2 linked regions of the Homo sapiens genome follow. The protein of the gene in region 1 purifies or fractionates together with the protein of each later gene. This does not show direct contact. Each region holds a gene or a part of one and is shown on either strand. Other genes may lie near its edges.

Region 1 (3,913 bases):
TGGCTCACTTCGTGTCTAACCAGTTCTACTTAGAGAAGAGTTTAGGGACACAATGCTTCGTTGGCGGGCTAGCACCCAGACACAGGTGTCAAGGCCTGTGTTTGCTGATTCACAGACCTAGTTTAACGTTTTCTACATCTTCAACCTTAGCCTGCTCTGCCAATGCCTACAACTTCCAGCATCTAAATGGAAGGACGAGAGGCAGTACAGACATGGGTAAAGCTGGTAGAGAGCTGGAAAAACAGTAGAGATCTCAGATTCTGCTATGATGCCCCACCCCCTACCCCCAAGGCCCCTACATGGTGCTCATGCACATACCAACCTGGGATCAAGAGCAGTTTGCTTTTTTCCACTGTAGCTGCAGTTGCACAGAGCCCAAAAGGAAGACAGACCTGAGGACAGATCAGAAAGGGCGTTTTTGAGCCATTGGTGGACGAATTCTGGTTCTTTTCCTGATTTGGGCCCCTGTGGGTCAAAGGTTTTCCCCCCTCAGGGATCCTCTTTTCCTCTTCAGCCTCTCCTCCCCCAAATATTAACTAAGGCAGATGCCACGCCCCTTTCTCTGCACCAAAAAGAAAGGGCCTGGGGCAAGGGTGTCTTTGAAATTAAAAGAGAGAAGATGCAGGAGGAGCCTCTGGTCCCATACTCTACTCTTGTCTCTGCCACACCCACACCAGGGGGCCCCAGACAATTCCAACCCCAGCACTGACCCTCCAAAGATTCAAGGCTGTTTCTCCTTACTTCAGTTCAGTTAGAGCTTCATCCTAAGGACAGACTGAAGAGCAGAAATATAGACTGTCGACGTTAGACAATGAAAGCCTGGTGGATGGATCAGCATCCAGGACAAGGGTCTCAGTAACTGCCTTTTCGTGTTTGCACATCAGAATGTCAAATGATTCTACCTCTCAATTCCTTCAACTCTTCTCACCCCACCCCTCCCACCTCAATCCTCCTCCTGCGCAGGCTCCCCAGGCACTCAATCCCTCCTTCCGCTTTGCCCCGCCCCCGTCCGCCATTTCTCCAGGACACACCGCCACACCCCTTCTCCTGCAACGAAGCGGGAGGGGAGCGGGGCGAGGGTGCAGCAAAAGCTGGATGGGACGCGGTATGGGGGACTCCTGCCAAACAATTCAGTGTTCCCCTCCCAGGATCACCCATCTTTCGCTCCCCAGCCCCTAGGCCTAGCGTTAGCCTGCAGAAGAGGGGCCTCAACGTCTGCCTTTTCGGGTTCAGGGTCGAGATTTTCCACGATTTCTCTGCTATGGGCTCTACCTCCCACTTCCCACAAATCCCCCCAACAACCGCCATTTCTCCCGCCTGCATACCCGAATTCCTTTTCCAGGACTGAAAAGACGGGGGGTGAACGGCTGTGTGGGCCGGAGGTGTCTGGAAAGCAGTCTGCGAGTTAACAAGGCGGTTTAATACCAGATTCTCTCAGGGTCCGCCCCCTCCCCCCCACCTCCCGTGAAGCCCAGACAGCGCCAAACCCGCCACCTCTCCAACAGCAGCTGGTACACCCATTTCCCAGCACTCCCAAATCACAGAGGGTCGGCTGGGGGATGGGAGGGTGCCGGGGCGGTGGTGGGGAAAGTCAGGGTGGGAGTGTGCCGCCCAGATTGTTACCAAATTGCATGCCCCACCCCCGCCTCCTGGTTACCCTTTCCCAACCTCCCTGCTGGCCTTCTATGCGCTGCCACGTTTATTTCTCTTCCCTCCTCCTCTCAAAACAGGACGGAATGTGGGGTGCGGGCCTGAATATTATAAACAAAACCAAAAAACACTGGCTGGAAAGGAAGTAAGCGGATTCTTCGTAAAGTCTATCAAAAGTCTTTTCGTTTCCCCCTCCCCCTTTCCCCACCGCCCACCAAAATGAGCCGCGTTTGAGCACCTCAGGTCTGGAAAGCCGGCCAGGAGTGGGGGAGACCGAGGCACCCGCGGCCTCCGACTCCCGCATCCCTAGATTACCCCTATTCAGGGGTCCCAGACTGTGCCCACCCTCACACCCACCTGCCCGAATCTGGGGGAATTTTCTCCTCCTCCTCCTCGCCTGGGTTAAACGCACGGCAGCGAGCTGCGCAATAGAGTTGGTACCCAGAGGAGGACGGAGAACGACGGTCAGGGCTTTAAGTACCTTTGCCCACGTCAGCTCCTGGTCACGTGAGGGCTGCATCGCCAGTAAGCTTGGGTCCCCAATTTCCACTCCCACCAAGAGTACGAGCCCCCTCCTTTACTTCCATTCCCATCTCACCCCACCACATCAGGTCCTGTCACTCATTTTTTTGTCTTTGTAGTCCTGGAGGCCTAAAGTAGCCCCTTCTCCCTGCTTTCACAATTTGCCTTTCTCTGGTTACCTGGGAGGGGCTGCATCTTCTCGGAGGGCTACTGAAAATTTTTACTTTTTTGTTGGGGAATTGTTTCATCCTTTCCTGGGCTACTGGACACTCTTCCATCTCTCCACCTCTAGTTCCTCAGCCCCTAGTCCCCAGGATTTTCCTTGCAGTTGACTCCCTGTTCCAGTATAGTTAAGGGGCAGAGTGTCAGAAAGGAGACAAGGAGTGGGAGTGGGGTCTGTACTTCTCAAATACTTCTGTTTTGTTTTCAAAACTATCATCATGCTTTATTTTTATAGTAAGAAAATTCAGTAAAACAAGAATTCAATGTGGGAAGTAGCAACAAAAAAAGGGTGGGCATGTTTTGTAAAGAAAAAAGGTTTCCTGCGTCCATTGGAAAGCACCATTAATTTTGGTTAATTTTTACCGAATAGAACATGAATTCTTTTGGTCACATAGGAAATAGTTTTTAAAATATGCTAAGGTATTTGAACATCTAAAATGGAATATTTCTCAATAAGATAAGCATATTTCCATGTGATCTGTAAATTGATCCACAGAGAGATGTTCAGTTCTTCAATCTTGTTTATTTTGGACAAATAATACGCTACTTTTTTCTCCTTCTGGGACAGCTTTTAAGTTGCATAAATAAATGATCCTGTCTTGTCCTGTTAGAGAAACACATTTATTTAATATTCCCAAACCATTGCTGACTGCTGTGTGTGAACCTCCTGTAATTTGATGGCTGTAACCATGACAGTTTTAAACACCTGTCTTCGGATTAGGTTCCAGTTAATGATTCAACTCTGGGCAAAAGGAAGAGCTGTGAGGCCAAGGAAACTGAGTGTGGTGGGTGCAGAGTGGTCAAATCCTCCCTGCCCTGTCAGGAGGAGGAGGGAGATGCTGTCTCTCTACTCCCTCCCATATGCCAGAGCCGCTCATCTCCTGCATTCAGGTACCTGGCTCAGTTGCTCACACCCAAAATATATCCAGACAAGTGACCAAGATGCAGACCTGGTTAAATGTCTTTGGCTCTTTCCGTCCCTCCCCCAAGTTCCCAGAGGAAACCCATTGATGCATAGAAAGGATTGCTGTTCTTACCTGACCCTGCAGCTGACGATTTGTGAAACCTGTGATTTCACAAAAAGGTTTTTGTGATCACACAAAAAGTGATTGTTGGGGGAAGTTCCCAGGCCTGACTGCTGTCTGTCCTTATTCGTGGTTACCAGTGAACCTTGCTCCAAACACTGTCTGCTACTACCACTTGGCCTAAGAGATGCATCCTCCTGGGCCTCTCACTTCTGCCTCCTTAGCTCCAGGGGACCTAGGAAGAGTCTAGCCTTCCTGCAAGGTTACTGCCTGCCAGTACACATCCACCTTGGTGCCCTCTCAACCAAATGTATGCCCAGGGAACAATCCCCACTGATGAACCCAGAGTAGGTGTTCTCACCCGGTCAACTCTGTAGACCACCTGAAATTGCATTCACCTGCAAAGCTTTGTTTGGGATTATATGTGTGGTTAAATGCATTTTTTTCAGGAACAGAGATCACTGACCTCATCAGTTTCTCAAGGGGTCTGTAAC
Region 2 (3,813 bases), on another chromosome or scaffold:
CGACCTCCAGAACTGTTGGGATTACGGGCATGAGCCACCGTGCCTGGCTGTGTTTACATTTTTTTCTTCCTAGCCCCTGATATCTAGAAATAGCTGAGTGATGGCAAGAACTGTTCCCTTTGCACAGGCATTTGTTATAGTTCAAGTGCAGGCTGAAGAGTGAACAACAGATGCCGGAGGCTGTGACGAGACACAACCATGAAAGAGAGCTGCTGCCAGGCTGTGAGGCAAAAATGAGATACTGAATATAAAAATGCCAGGATTCGGCCCGGCGCGGTGGCTCACGCCTGTAATCCCAGCACTTTGGGAGGCCAAGGCGGGCGGATCACGAAGTCAGCAGATCGAGACCATCCTGGCTAACATGGTGAAACCCTGTCTCTACTAAAAATACAAAAAAGTAGCTGGGCGTGGTGGTGGGTGCCTGTAGTCCCAGCTACTGGGGAGGCTGAGGCAGGAGAATGGCGTGAACCCGGGAGGCGGAGCTTGCAGTGAGCCAAGATGGCGCCACTGCACTCCAGCCTGGGTGACAGAGCAAGACTCCGTCTCAAAAAACAAACAAAAAAACAAAACAAAACCAAAATGCCAGGATTCCTGTGAAACTTATATTCACTCTCCCAGGTCTCTCCCACCCTCCCCTGTCCTGCTCTGTGCTTGGGAAACTAGCCTTTGATGCAGCCTCTGGCTGCTGGTTGTGTTCAGCCAGTGGGGAGCAATGGTGAGAAATGGGAAGGAGGGAGAAGACTGAGGTCTTGGTCTTAACTTTGAGGCTCCTTCCCTGAGAGGTCACACTGGATTAGCTGTGTCCCTCAGCCCAAAGTCACAACTCCTCTCAGCAGACTCCAGGGTTCCAGCTGTGGCCCCACCCCTTGCTTCCTGGGATCTAGGATGGCTGCTCCTCAGTGTTGCCAGCCCTGCTGTCCTGCATGAGCCTGCGTAGTTGCCCTCTTCCCTGTCCATAACTTCCGCACAGCCCCTTTATCAAAAACTTTTTTTCTTTTTCTTTTTTTTAGACAGAGTCTGGCTCTGTTGCCCAGGCTGGAGTGCGGTGGTGTGACCTTGGCTCACTGCAACCTCCACCTCCCAGGTTCAAGTGATTCTTGTGCTTCAGCATCCCAGGTAGCTAGGACTATAGGTGCCCTCCACCACAACAGGCTAATTTTTTGTATTTTTAATAGAGACGGGGTTTCACCATAGCGAGGCAGGTCTTGAACTCCTGGACTCAAGTGATCTGCCTGCCTTGGCCTCCCAAAGTGCTGGGATTACAGGCGTGAGCCACCATACCGGCCAAAAACTCTTTTAATTACTGTTGCCTGCTGGTGCTGACTAATGAGGTATTCAATATTCTCTATTTTCCCTTTTATTAAAAATTTGGTATAAAATATATAAATCCTTTAATATATTTCTGAATTTTTTACAAGCCATTACTGAACAAATACTTTTTGATGTTTCTCAATGTTCTTTAAGCACTCATGTAATACTTTCCTCCATCAATCCAAAGTCCAGCATCATCACAAGTCCTACCATGTTATGAGAATTATGTAAACCACAGTGTTTGCCTTTGTATCCTAGTTTTAAGAAAACTCTGTTAAATTTATTAATCATTGTCAATAGTTAAATTGAGTTGAGTATCCAGGAACAACTATTACTCTGCTTCTTGAAATAATTTTTAAAACTGGTTTTCATCCTATTTTGCCATTGTCTTTTCCACTGTTTTTAATATGGTGAATCATCTAAATCCTTTTGGGAATATGAATAAAATACATTGTAATTAATAAACATTTCAATGTAAAAATCAGGCCCACATCATCATTAAGACTGTAGGAAAGGACCAAGAAACCCAATTTCATAAAAGTCCACTTGAAAATAAGCCCAAGACGCAAGAAACAAAAAGCCAGGAGAATAGCTGGATCCCATCCACGGGCATCTGGGTCCAGACAGCAAATCTATAACCACCCCCTTCTCTTCATCCACGGGAAGCACCTCCGGCCCTGGGTAGTAGTTTCTATTTCCTCAGTCTCCTGTGAGGCTTAAGAGACATTTAGGAACAGCCCAAACTTACTCTTGGTGTGGGGCTCCTGTCTTGGTCAGCAAGGTCAGCACAAAAAACATAAAAATCACGAAGACTGCAAGACCAACCCAAAATCCAATCACAATGGAATCTGAAAGACAGTTAATTCTGGGATTAGTATTTCACAGTAGTTTAAAACTTGAACATTCAAGAATCAGAGCTTTTTGGAGAGGCTTTGGTACATGAAACATGAAAGGAAGTCAACAGTCTGATCCGCAGTTGGCTGGAGACTGATAAGATGTAAAGGATGAGGAGGAGGGAAGAGTCTGCTCCGCCTCCAGGTTTCTGTCTCAGATAGCATGAAGGGATTTAGGCCTCATTGACTCATGCTTTCCATATCTCAAGGAAGGAACCTAGACCAGAGCATAGGTTATCTAGGACCTCAAGATTCCACTAATGTGTTTTGAGTTAGAAAATAAAATTTTTAGCAGACTATCAACTCAAGTTTTAAGTGCATTTGGATTCCTACTGTTAAAAGAAAAACTTTAGACAAATTAAATTTAACAGATATTAACTGTGCAAGGAAAACAAAATTCTTGAACCGGGAAGCTCCCAGAATCAGAATAGATTCAGAGAGACTCTGGGCTGCCTCATGGTTGGTTAAGATTTAGGGACAGAAAAAGGAAAATGATGTACAGAAAAAAGAAGCAAGGTACGGAAACAGCTGGATTTGAACACCATTTGAACAGCTGTCTGCCTGGGAGTGCCTGAAGTGTAGCTGCTGTGATTAGCTGAGACTGAGCTATTGTTACAGAAGCATTGGCTAGGTTTTCAGTTTGCTTACCTAGTAAGCTAGGTCACAGCTCATACCTAAGAATGCAAGTATGCAAATAATGGAGGCCTTCTTGGGCCAAATTTTAGTTTAACAACTCAATTGGTTAGCATCTCAATTAGGTAGCAACTTTGCATTCTCACTTACGTTCACCATGGATAATTCAGGCTCTCATTACTTCTTGCAGAGAACATACAGATGGCCTCTTGAGTGCTCTCTCTGCCTTCTGCCTTTCCCTGTGCTTTATTTCTGTACAAACCTGCTTTAATCACAGCCCTGATGATATTGCTCTTTCATGAAAAGCTCTCCAACAAAAACAGAACTGACCCACTTTTCCAGAGTAAAAGAGATTCCACACATAAAGCACTTTATACAATGTCTGACATCTGAGAAAACAGTACACCACAGGTGCTGGCTACTGTCATTAGAATTGTCATTTTCTCCCAATTTACCACTTTAAAAGCCATGTGTTTCCAATCAAACTAGGGGACACTGTGTCCCTGTATTTACCTTAGCCACAGCTTCCTCACAGCCACACCTTACCAGGGCTCTTACCACTACCTGGCTGGAACAACTTTTCCCAACGTGGAGCTAATGAAAGTGTATCCATCCTTCCAAGTCCATCCGCTACACTATCTACTAAGCCTCAACTAATTTCCATAATTGATGTGTTGTCTCCCTCCTTTGAACCCAATAACATTTTTGTCTGTAATTCCCTAAACAGGGCTCTCCTTGGTCCTATCTTGGATAACAATCACAATTCTTTATCTCTAGGACCAGGGTTAGATTGGATTGTCTACAGAACTTGGTACTTGCACAATAAGGCCTCAAATCTAGGACACAACAGAGTTGAATCATTCTACATTTTTTGGCCTACACTAAGAAGCTTGTCTATGTGGAAATACAATGAGGATGCTTAGCAATTTTCTAAAAATAAGTGATTAGAGCTTAAATATTAAATGTGTTTAAATGC

What was found.
Region 2: the proteins of ARMCX2 (region 1) and MRAP2 purify together in Homo sapiens (co-immunoprecipitation; one large-scale study listed by IntAct). This does not show direct contact.

The regions. Positions count from the first base shown.
Region 1 is NC_000023.11:101,657,751-101,661,663, forward strand, and holds the start of ARMCX2 (armadillo repeat-containing X-linked protein 2), read right to left. Parts: upstream 2,101-3,913; 5' UTR 2,008-2,100; intron 1,785-2,007; exon of another isoform or gene 1,752-1,784; 5' UTR 1,669-1,751; exon of another isoform or gene 1,658-1,668; intron 1,399-1,657; 5' UTR 1,326-1,398; intron 864-1,325; exon of another isoform or gene 776-863; 5' UTR 711-775; intron 393-710; 5' UTR 323-392; intron 1-322. UniProt on the Homo sapiens protein: May regulate the dynamics and distribution of mitochondria in neural cells.
Region 2 is NC_000006.12:84,061,239-84,065,051, reverse strand, and holds part of MRAP2 (melanocortin-2 receptor accessory protein 2), read right to left. Parts: intron 2,160-3,813; coding exon 2,060-2,159; intron 1-2,059. UniProt on the Homo sapiens protein: Modulator of melanocortin receptor 4 (MC4R), a receptor involved in energy homeostasis. Plays a central role in the control of energy homeostasis and body weight regulation by increasing ligand-sensitivity of MC4R and MC4R-mediated generation of cAMP.